Homo sapiens: one gene and its partner. The protein of the gene in region 1 binds, or shares a complex with, the protein of each later gene. Links are inferred from orthologs where the notes say so. Each region holds a gene or a part of one and is shown on either strand. Other genes may lie near its edges. The genes, in order: CPLANE2 and FUZ.

Region 1 (7,202 bases):
GCTGCTCCTGCTGCCCTGTGGGCTGTGCCAAGTGTGCCCAGGGCTGCATCTGCAAAGGGACGTCGGACAACTGCAGCTGCTGTGCCTGATGCCAGGACAGCCCTGCTCTCAGATGTAAATAGAGCAACCTTATAAACCTGGATTTTTTTGGTACAACCCTGACCCATTTGCTACATCTTTTTTTCTATGAAATATGTGAATGGCAATAAATTCATCTAGACTAAAAAAAAAAAAAAAAAAAAAGGTAATGAAGGGTGAGCATGGTGACTGATGACTGTAATCCCAGCACTTTCAGAGGCCAAGGCAGGCAGATCACTTGAGGCCAGGAGTTTGAGACAAGCCTGGGCAACAAGGCAAAACCGTACCTCTAAAAAAATACAAAAGAAAAAGTCCGGGCATGGTGGCTAATGCCTGTAATCCCAGCACTTTGGGAGGCCAAGGCGGGCGGATCACCCGAGGTCAGGAGTTCAAGACCAGCCTGGCCAACATGGTAGAACCCCGTCTCTACTAAAAATACAAAAATTAGCTGGGTGTGGTGGCAGGCGCCTGTAATCCCAGCTACTTGGGAGGCTGAGGCAGGAGAATCACTTGAACCTGGGAGATGGAGGTTGCAGTGAGCAAAGATCGCGCCATTGCACTCCAGCCTGGGGCACAAGAGCGAGACTTTGTCTCAAACAAACAAACAAAAATACAAAAAAAAAAAAAATTAGCCAGGCGTGCTGATATGCACCTGTAGTCCTAGCTCCCCTCGGGGCTGAGGCAGGAGGATTGCTTGAGCCTGAGGAGGTCGTGGCTGCAGTGAGCTGAGATCACACCACTGCCCTCTAGCCTGGGTGACAGAGTGAGGCCCTGTCTCAAAAAATAAAAGAAAAAGGTAATCAAGGTTAAATGAGACCATAAGCATGGAGCCCTAATCCAGTAGGACTAATGTCCTATTTGTAACAGAGGAAGAGACACCAGACATGTATAAGCACAGAGAAGAGGCCATCTGTAAGCCAGGAAGAGAGGCCCCACCCAGAAACCAACTCTGCTGGCACCTTGATCTTGGACTTCCAGCCTCTAGAACTATGAGAAAATAAATTTCTGTTGTTTAGAGTACCCAGACTGTGGTATTTTTGTTACAGCAGCCTGGGCTGACTCATATAGACCCCAACTTCAGAACTGCCTAGTGCTTTTGTCAAATCTGCAGGCTCACAGACCTACCCAGCCCCTGACACAGAATGTCGGGGTTGGATGTGTGAACCCCAAATATCTGAGACAGGTCACAGTCAATTTAGAAAGTTTATTTTGCCAAGGTTAAGGATGTGCCCGTGACAGCCTCAGGAAATCCTGAGACATATACCCAAGGTGGTCAGGGGTACAGTTTGCATTTAAGTTTTAGGGAGACATGAGACCTCAATCAATATGTGTAAGATGTACATTGGTTTGGTCTGGTAAGACAGGACAGCTTGAAGCAGGGGCTTCCAGGTTAGAAATACATAAGAGACAAGGCCAGGTGCAGTGGCTCATGCCTATAATCCCAGCACTTTGGAAGGCTGAGGTGGGCGGATCATGAGGTCAGGAGATCCAGACCATCCTGGCCAACATGGTGAAACCCCGTCTCTACTAAAATACAACAACAACAAAAATTAGCCGGACATGGTGGGGCATGCCTATAGTCCCAGCTACCTGGGAGGCTGAGGCAGGGGAATCACTTGAACCTCAGAGGCAGAGGTTGCAGTGAGCCGAGATTGTGCCACTGCACTCCAGCCTGGGCGACAGAGTGAGACTCTGTCTCAAAAAAAAAAAAAGTAGATAGGAGACAAAAGATTGCATTCTTTTGAGTCCTTGATCAGCCTTCCACTGAATACATAATTTTATTTATTCAGCTCTGTCACCCAGGCTGGAGTGCAGTGATATGATTCTGCTCACTGCAACCTCCACCTCCCAGGTTCAAGCGATTCTTCTGCCTCAACCTCCAGAGTAGCTGGGATTACAGGCGCCTGCCATCACAGCCAGATAATTTTTGTATTTTTAGTAGAGACAGGGTTCACCATGTTGGCCAGGCTGGTCTTGAACTCCTGACCTCGGGTGATTTGCCCGCCTCAGCCTCCCAAAGTGCTGGGATTACAGGCGTGAGCCACCGCGCCCAGCCATTTTTTTGTATATTTTTAGGGATAAGGTTTTGCCATGTTACCCAGGCTGGTCTCAAACTCCTGACCTCAAGTGGTCCACCAGCTTCAGCCTCCCAAAGTGCTGGGATTACAGGCGTGAGCCACCGCACATGGCCCCAAGAGGACTTTACATCTTCTCTGGGTTGCAGATTAACAGGCACGTTCATTCTGCCAAGTTGCTTCATTTTCTCACACGCTCACTGAGCCCTCCACGAGCCAAAGATGGGTGGATGTGAAGTCTGGAAATCCAGAAATAATTCAGATCAGAGCCCTGCCACTGAGTGACTCCTGGCCCATGGAGAGAGCTCTGGACAGCTGTGAATCTCCCTGACTGGGCAGATGTGACAGCTGCAGGAATGGGAACCATGTGACCTGGGAGTATGGGCAAAGGATTCCACCTGCAGAATCCTGTAGGAATGGTTATTCATCTGGTTTTTCTGCCTAGCCACAGCGTGAGCAAGTTGAGAGAAAGCACCTTGTCTTACACATCCTCATCCCCTCTCTTAGACATAATGGGCCTTAAAAATCTGTGAGTTCGTAGTCCTCTGGCTGCTTTCTGCTTCCCTAGGAACAGCCCTCCTAGTGGCTAGGGGCAAAGTTTTAAAAACACAAAACCCAAACTGGCAGAACAGATAAGTACTTTAGAGTCAGGTAAGTGTGGGTTCTTTTTTTTTTTTTTTTTTTTTTTTTGACAGGGCCTAGCTCTGTCACTCAGGCTGAAGTGCAGTGGCATGATCTCGGCTCACTGCAACCTCCATTTCCCGGGCTCAAGCAATCCTCTCATCTCAGCCTCCAAGTAGCTGGGACTACAGGCGTGCACTACTGTGCCCGGCTAATTTTTGTATTTTTTTTTTTGTAGAGGCAGGGTCTTACTATGTTGCCCAGGTTGGTCTCAAACTCCTGAGCTTAAGCAATCTGCCCGCCTCAGCTTCCCAAAGTGCTGGGATTACAGGCGTGAGCCACCACACCCAGCCAGCTGTGGGTTCTGAGTCGGTTTCACACTGACTAGCTGTGCGGTGTGACCTCAGACAAGTCACGTTATGTTTCTGAGAGTCTTCGTCAGTACAAGAGGGTAATACTATTTACACAGGTTTGTTTATAGAATTAAATCAGGTGACCCCTGTAAAGTCCCCACTGTCTGGCACTTGGGTGGCCTTAGGTAAAGCTTAACTCCTAAATTATTCCTTTCAAAACAGTGATTTGCCCTACTTGAAGGCATTGCGGAAAGATAATGGTAAAAATTAAATGTAATAGACAAACTCTCAGTAATGACCCACCTGCACTCTTTCCAACCAGTGGGCATTTACTGAGCACCCACCTTCTGGGTAACAGGCCTGGTGTCCAGTGCTGGAACGGTGGAGAGGAGCTCAGAGTTTCAGAGCTGAAAAGTCAGCTCCAGGAGAGCAGGGACTTCTTGTTGGCCACTGTATTCCCAGCTAGGTGCTCAGTATTTGTTGAATGAATGAATGAATGAAAAATACAATCCAGCGGGCCTCTGACTCATTTTTTAAAACTTGAGCCAAGTCCCTTGACCTCTCTGAGCTGGTGTGTGTCCCCATCAGTGAAGCCAGAGATGTTTAAGTCATCTAGAGGTCCTGCCAAGCAGGATTAATAGAGCAATAATATTAATAATAGCAACAATCATAACTAAACATATGGAGCACTGCTATGGAGGGAATAACATGTTACGTCCACGTTATAGAAGAGGAAACTGAGACACAGAGAAGCATGAAAGGCTCCTGGAGGGGGGGTTTCATGATGTTTTGGAAGAAAGACTAGGGATCGGACGGAGTCATAGAGAAGAGGATCCACAACCCAGAGGAAAAGGCCTAGTCCAGAGCCACCGCGCGGCGCAGGCTGCGGACGTTGTAGGAGGGACGAACGCCTCCCGGAACCCGCCCAACCCAACCTCCGGCGTCTCCATGGCAACAACCTCCGCACATGCGCCGCGCGCACCTGCGCCGGAGCTGCCAGCACGCGCAGAAGGCGGACGCAGGCGGGGCGGAAGTGGGCCCGGCGGGCTGGGGCGGCGGGAGTGCGGGTGGGCGTTTAAAGGGGCCTTCGGCACCCAGGTCGGTTCGCCGCCGGGACTGCTGACGGGGAGGGCTAGGTAGCCCTGGGAGTCGGGATCTAGAAGGTAGAGGAGAAGCGGGGCTGTCTGACCCCCGGAGGTGACAAGGGGAGAGGGGCTGTGTGAATACCCTCCATGGGCAGTAATGGGATGACTATCCCCAGGGAGCATTGCGAAGGAGAGAGGCGGCTGAGGGACTGCACTTTCTGGGGCCCCCCGGGAGAGTCAGAGGGCAGTTAAGAGGGATCACAGGCCCGGCTTGGTACTGTCACTCCCCTTCCCACTCCCTGCTCTCAGCATTCTGTCACCTCCCTACCCCGTCGCGGTGCCCAGCCATGGCCAGACCTCCCGTGCCCGGTTCGGTGGTTGTCCCAAACTGGCACGAGAGTGCCGAGGGCAAGGAGTACCTGGCTTGCATTCTGCGCAAGAACCGCCGGCGGGTGTTTGGTAAGTGCCTCCCCCTTTCCTCTAGCCCGCCACTTGTCTTTCCCTGGGGAGAAGAGTGTCACCTGTTGCTCCCTGAGGAGAGCAGAGAGGCAGGGCAGTGAGGGCCTGCTCCACTGCAGTCTTCAGCAGTCTTCAGCCTGGGGGACTGAAAGCCCTAGCTCTGGGACCCCCACACCTAAATCTCCTTAGAGCTAATTCCATCGTCAGAGCCAGGAACATGGAAACAGCAGAAACCTTGCCAGCAACCACTGTCACCAGAGATGCAGTTGATTGAGCACTCCCCTGGTGCCAGGCCCTCTGTTGGGCACGTTACACAGTGCACGCCCATTTAACCTCTCAACAGCACATGGTACAGACTTGGCTAAGATCACACCCCAATAAATAGAGGTGAGCCTCTTCCATGTCCTGCTGTCTCTGGGATGAGACGCTGGTGTTCCCCATGGTGAAACTGACTCACCCAGGCAGGGCCCAGCTGTCAGGCCGGCAGAGGTGCCTGGAATCAGCTGTGGAGCCCAGCTCTGGCCAGGAGAAGCAAGGTGCCAGAAGACTTAAGACCAGAGAGTGAGATAGCTAGAACCAAAATTTGTGAATAAGTCAACTGTTTGTTTGTTTTTTTAAAAGAAATTATATTAAATTCAAAAAATGACCCTCTAGAAGGCTGGGCGCAGTGGCCTGTAATCCCAGCACTTTGGGAGGCCGAGGTGGGCAAATCACCTGAGGTCAGGAGTTCAAGACCAGCCTGGCCAACATGGCGAAACCCCATCTTTACTAAAAATACAAAAATTAGCCGGACGTGGTGGCGGGCACCTGTAATCCCAGCTACTTGGGAGGCTGAGGCAGGAGAATCGCTTGAACACAGAAGGCAGAGGTTGCAGCAACCCTAGATCGAGCCATTGCATTCCATCCTGGGTGACAAGAGTGAAACTCCGTCTCAAAAAAAAAAAAAAAAAAAAGACCCTCTAATATGGCCACTGTCCCTCTAATCCCATGATGGCTGGCAACACTGTATTTGGGGTCACACATACCCAGGCAAGTGACCCAGGCTCCACCACTGCTAGCTGTATGGCTGGGAATAAGTGAACTCTAGCCTCAAGTCCCACCTCTGTAAAATGGGGATAATCACAGTATTTACCCCATAGAGTTACTGGGGAAATTAATAAGGAGGGTGTTTGTAACATACCAAGCAGGTTCTGGCATGCAGTGGGTGTTCACTGAAGGTTGGCTGTTATTGTATTTATTTTGCATTTAGTTGTGTTGAGTGGAAGAGAATTGAGTGAAGGTTGAGCTGATTTTCTGGGAACATCATAGAATCCACTGACCATATTATCTATGCCACAGATAGGATTAAGCAGCCATAACTTAGAGGAATGGCAGTGATGGCTTTTAATTTTTGTGTTTTTACTTTAACTGCAGACATTTGGGTTTTTTTTTAACAGCTGGGTTTATGCACCTGAATGTATCATTCAGTGGTTGTCATGCAGGCCCCACAACAAACGCTGAGAGCAGCTAGTAAATAAATATCAACAGACTGACTATAATGCTTAGGCTAGTCTCTTTGTATCCCAGACTTCTGTAAAATTAGGTTGAGTATTAAGAGCCACAGATGAGGCCGGGCACGGTGGCTCACGCCTGTAATCCCAGCACTTTGGGAGGCTGAGGCAGGCAGATCACCTGAGGTTGGGAGTTCGAGACCAGCCTGACCAACATGGAGAAACCCCATCTCTAAAAATACAAAATTAGCCAGGCATGGTGGCGCATGCCTATAATCCCAGCTACTCGGGAGGCTGAGGCAGGAGAATCACTTGAACCCGGGAGGCGGAAGTTGCAGTGAGATCACACCATTGCACTCCAGCCTGGGCAACAAAAGCGAAACTCCGTCTCAAAAAAAAACAAAAAAGAACCACAGATGGTTGGTTAGCCCTGAAGAAGCCATTAGAAATGAGGTTGTCCTTGGCTGTATGTGGTGGCTCATGCCTTGTAGTCCCAGCACTTTCGGAGGCCAAGGTGGGAGGATTGCTTGAGCCCAGGAGCTCAAGACCAGCCTGAGCAACATAGTGAGACCCCATCCGTATTAAAAATAGAAGGTAAAGAAAAAAAGTAAAAATAAATAAGTGAGACTGTCCAGCCCAGGATCTGATGGGGCAAGTGCAGGATTTACCCGCGTCTTAGTCCATTTTATGCTGCTACAACAGAATACCACACTCTAAGTTATTTATTTATTTATTTTTTGAGACAAAGTCTCGCTCTGTCGCCCAGGCTGGAGTGCAGTGGTGTGATCTCGGCTTAGCAACTTCCACCTCCCAGGTTCAAGCAGTTCTCCTGCCTCAGCCTCCCAAGAAGCTGGGATTATAGGCACCCACCACCACACCCAGCTGATTTTTGGTATTTTTTTTTGTAGAGATGGAGTTTCACCATGTTGGCCAGGCTGGTCTCGAACTCCTGACCTCAGGTGATCTGCCCGCCTTGGCCTCCCAAAGTGCTGGGATTACAGGTGTAAGCCACCGCACCAGGCCTCCTCTGTGTAATTTATA
Region 2 (4,212 bases), on another chromosome or scaffold:
AGAGACAGGGTTTCACTATGTTGGCCAGGCTGGTCTTGAACGCCTGACCTCGTGATCCACCCGCCTCAGCCTCCCAAAGTGCTGGGATTACAGGCATGAGCCACCGCGCCCGGCTGACATTCAGCTATTTTTTTTTTTAAGAGATGGACTAGGGTTGGGGATGGGTTTCCATTAAGTTGCCCGGGCTGGTCTCGAACTCCTGGGCTCAAGCAGTCCTCCCGCCTCAGCCTCCCATAGTGCTGGGATGACAGGTGTGAGCCATCACACCCGGCCACCAGAAGAACCCTACTATATCCAGAGCTGGCTCTGCCCCTTTCCTGCTCACAGCCCTCCGGCAGCCTCCACCTCCCCCAGGACAAGGTCCCAGCTCCTCAGCCTGGTGTTTGAAGGCCTGTGGCACCTGGCACCCCCTAACCTGTTGCTAAATCCACAGTCTACTTCCACCCAGCTACCTCACAGTCCTGAGATCCCAACAAGTTTCCAACCTCAGTGCATGTTCTTCCTCCTGCCTCTCAGATCTCTAGCTACCTCTACTTAAATACTGCTCTTGTGGACTTGCCTGGTGTGGCGGCCTCCCAGGCATGTGACTCTCAGCAGGTGACTTGGCTTCTCTACGTTGCTAATGGTGCCTACTCGGCATGTAACAGGCCTGGATGAACGGTAGCTGCTGCGGTTACATTATTAGCTTCAGTTTGCCCGCCCAGGCTAGATGTTTAATCAGATTTCACAGACTTCACAGTGTGAGTTGGGGATGTGACTTCGTATGAAAGTGAAGGAACTCAGGCTCAGAGAGGGTGAGACGTAGGAGCATGGCCACTGCGCGAGCTCGGGGCTGGCTGTGGGTTTCTCCCCATTCCCTGCCCATCTGGGAAGTCGCTGCCACCCCCTACGCTTGTCTGCTGACTCCCAGTCCTCCTGCCTCCCGTACCCAGGAAGCCCTCTCCGGGTTCGCTGAGGCCGCGGGCACGACCTTCGTCAGTCTGGTGGTGTCCGGCCGGGTGGTGGCAGCAACAGAGGGTTGGTGGCGGCTGGGGACGCCCGAGGCCGTGCTGCTCCCCTGGCTGGTGGGGTCCCTGCCGCCGCAGACCGCTCGCGACTACCCGGTGTACCTGCCGCACGGGAGCCCCACGGTGAGTGGGTGGCGGGCACCGACGGAGGGATGTGACCTGGGGGCCGAGTCGCGAGGAGGCGGGATCTGCGATGGAAAGGGGCCGGGCCGCGATGAGCCCCAGCCTGTGCCCTGCTTCAGGTCCCACACCGGCTCCTGACCCTGACTCTGCTGCCGAGCCTGGAGCTGTGTCTACTCTGCGGGCCGAGCCCACCCCTCAGCCAGTTGTATCCACAGGTGAACCCGCGCCACGTCCCGCTTTCGCTCTTAGGACACCCGCTACCAGGAGGGCCCTTCCCCACCACCCTGCCCTGCCAGCGGCATCTTTCCCCAGCCCCGCCTCTTCTGGACTGCGCTCCAGTCATTCACCTACCCGCCAAGATCGGCCGCTCCCGCCTCTGCCTCTATTCTTCCAGGCCTCGCCCCTTCCCCAGTCCCTTCTGCCCTCCGCCCTCCACTCTTCTTGCAGGCCCCGCCCCTCCCGATTGACCACGCCCCTATCCTTGTACACCCCCCGACCTCCCCCGCCGGCCCCGCCTTCCCATGACGACCTCACAATGACCACGCCCCCTGCAGCTTCTGGAGCGCTGGTGGCAGCCACTGCTGGACCCGTTGCGGGCCTGTCTGCCGTTGGGACCCCGGGCGCTGCCCAGTGGCTTCCCCCTTCACACAGACATCCTCGGGTAGGGCTCGGATGGAGGGAGTGGGTCGGGGGTCATGTCCTCTTCCCCAGCCATGACATTCCCTTCCCTTTCCCACAGGCTGCTGCTCCTCCACCTGGAACTGAAGCGCTGCCTCTTCACCGTGGAGCCCTTGGGGGATAAAGGTGACTGAGGACAGGGGCAGGGGCAGGGGTAGGAGGGGCGTGGGCCGGGGAGGCGCTCTGCATCACCGCCTTTTCCTCCCAGCAGAGCCTTCACCAGAACAGCGCCGGCGCCTCCTCCGAAACTTCTATACCCTGGTCACCTCCACGCACTTCCCACCAGGTCAGCGGAAGGCACAGTGCTCCCACTGCGCAGGCGGGGACACTGAGTCCCAGGTCGCACAAAATGGGAGTAGGAGGTGGGGTTGGAGGATCCGGAGGAACCCAGTATGCACTGGGCCATAGGGCAGTGGTTTTCCTTGAGATCTGAGCATTGATGCAGATGGGAAGGGAGGGGAAGGGAGGTCCCCGCCTGGCTTCAGAATCTCCTGGATCATAGTCAACAATAGTTAACACTGAGACCTCACCTCTTCCCAGTGCCTTTACACGTAATGAAAGAATGAAATCACTTCATCCTCACAGGTGAGGACTATCCCATTACCTCATCATTCCCATATTACAGATGAGGAAACTGAGGCTCAGCTCATGAGTGGCAGAGCCATATTTGAACACAGGGGATCTTGCTCCCATATCCACACAGTCCAGCGCTCTGCACAACTGCCAAAAGCACAGGCTTTGCTGATAGGCTGAGGGTATGGAGGAGGATTTCACAAGATTCTGGGTTAGAACGGAAAAATTGTCGTAGAACCCTTAAGGGCCCAGAAAGACAAAGAAAGGGACCTGGGATGGCGCTGTGACCCCAGTGAAGCCCGGATGAATGCAGCACAGTGGTCAAGAGCTCCAACTCGGGGGCTGCACCCCTTCTTAGCTGTGCGACTCCACCTCCCACTGGCCCCTGCCTGTTTCCCTCCACCCGCCTTGTACAGTGGGGCGGGTGGGCTCCTGGAAAAGGCTACAGGAGCTCCTGTGTTGCTGCCGTGTTCGCCATGTGTATTGCTAAGAGGATCACCTGCAGCTGCACAGTTTCTCCAGGAAAATGGGGGCCAAGGCTGAGAAAGAGGAAGAGGGTGAGCTGAGTGACATCATTGTGGTCTTCAAGTTGCTGACAGCCAGCTAGAGCCCCGAGGCCCTCCCCTGGCAGGAGGCTCCCAAAACCTGTGTTCAGAGACCCCACGCGTTCAGAACTTGGGATCAGGATGTGGTGTGGCTTGCAAAGGTTAGCATGCTACTTGTCATGTCAGTGCCCCCTGTTCTTTCTCCAGAGCCAGGGCCACCAGAGAAGACAGAAGATGAGGTCTACCAGGCCCAGCTGCCCAGAGCTTGCTACCTGGTGTTGGGGACTGAGGAACCAGGCACAGGAGTGCGTCTGGTGGCCTTGCAGCTGGGGCTTCGGCGGCTGCTGCTGCTGCTGTCTCCCCAGAGTCCCACCCATGGGCTGCGAAGCCTGGCCACCCACACTCTGCATGCCCTCACCCCACTTCTTTGACTACCTAGCAGTGGGTGATGGACACAGACATGGGGCTGTTAGCGTCTCTCTGTTTATTCGCTCACAATAATACACAGCCCCTGGATGGGGAGGGGGTAGGAGGGGCTACAACAGGGTGGGGTGGGAGGGGAGGAGACATCCACTTCCCTGGCCCCTCTCCCCTCTGTGCTTGGGGGGGAAAGGGAGGGAGGGGGACTCCCCCTAACCCCCCAGAATGTAAACAGCAGCAGATGAACAAAAATAAAAATACAAAAGGCCGGAGGAAAGTCCCAGGCATCCCCCAAACCCTGGTGTCTTCTCTGTCACCAGTGGAGGTCCCCCATCCACCAAAACTGCCTCAGTCCAAGGGGCTGCCCAGTGCCGGCCACATCCCCCGGGGCAGAGTCCAGGGCTCAGAACTGCTGTGCCAGCAGCTCACACAGGTGACGGGAGACGGGCTCCTTGCTGGTGCGCAGGGTCAGCCGGTACATCTGGGTGGGGGCATTGGGGGCAGAACTCAGAGGAGATGGGGAGCCCAGGGAAGTCGGGACCCAAGGGAGATAGAAGGAAGGAAGGATAAAGGGGCCAGAAAGGTGATACAAGACACAGGAGAGAAAAATGTAAGACTGAAATCAACAGAGGCGCCAGAGAGGAAGAAAATTATAAAAGATGAGAGAAAGGTGGAAAGGATATGGAAAGGTAGAAATCAGGGAGGGACAGGAAGAGGAGAGGAACACCAGAGGTTGGAGACAGGAGATTAAACTGATAGATAAAGAGGAGTAAAAGTGGACAAAGAAATGTGAGAGGAGGAGGGTCAAAGTGGGGACGTGAATTAAAGAACAGTGAGGCAGGAAGGGTGGACGCAGAGATGACAGG

Evidence for each region.
Region 2: the proteins of CPLANE2 (region 1) and FUZ are in contact, whole or in part, in a cryo-EM structure (PDB 7Q3E), measured with the Mus musculus proteins. The link is inferred for Homo sapiens from one-to-one orthologs. Residues at the interface, in NP_001074643.1 of Mus musculus: Glu36, Gly38, Leu39, Leu40, Glu41, Arg42, Val83, His84, His85, Glu86, Thr88, Gly89, Ile90, Gln91, Thr92, Thr93, Val94, Lys124, Phe125, Met128, Glu134; in NP_081652.2 of Mus musculus: Arg26, Arg35, Ile109, Val110, Lys126, Glu127, Arg129, Ala130, Tyr132, Cys133, Asp136, Gln215, Ala216, Ala217, Arg218, Asp219, Tyr220, Pro221, Tyr223, Pro232, Leu238, Thr239, Leu240, Leu241, Arg242, Pro255, Leu256, Gly257, Gln258, Pro261.

Annotation. Positions count from the first base shown.
Region 1 is NC_000001.11:16,234,100-16,241,301, reverse strand, and holds the start of CPLANE2 (ciliogenesis and planar polarity effector 2), read left to right. Parts: upstream 1-4,118; 5' UTR 4,119-4,559; coding exon 4,560-4,671; intron 4,672-7,202. UniProt on the Homo sapiens protein: Required for efficient primary cilia initiation, regulating a late step in cilia initiation. Plays a role in the final maturation of the mother centriole and ciliary vesicle that allows extension of the ciliary axoneme.
Region 2 is NC_000019.10:49,806,296-49,810,507, reverse strand, and holds the end of FUZ (protein fuzzy homolog), read left to right. Parts: exon of another isoform or gene 1-932; coding exon 933-1,130; exon of another isoform or gene 1,131-1,195; intron 1,196-1,249; coding exon 1,250-1,345; intron 1,346-1,481; exon of another isoform or gene 1,482-1,588; intron 1,589-1,684; coding exon 1,685-1,791; intron 1,792-1,869; coding exon 1,870-1,934; intron 1,935-2,016; coding exon of another isoform or gene 2,017-2,019; coding exon 2,020-2,094; intron 2,095-2,348; coding exon of another isoform or gene 2,349-2,374; exon of another isoform or gene 2,375-2,393; intron 2,394-2,797; exon of another isoform or gene 2,798-2,938; intron 2,939-3,112; exon of another isoform or gene 3,113-3,133; coding exon 3,134-3,357; 3' UTR 3,358-3,642; downstream 3,643-4,212. Other genes in the region: AP2A1 (AP-2 complex subunit alpha-1), read right to left, coding at 3,750-3,827. UniProt on the Homo sapiens protein: Probable planar cell polarity effector involved in cilium biogenesis. May regulate protein and membrane transport to the cilium.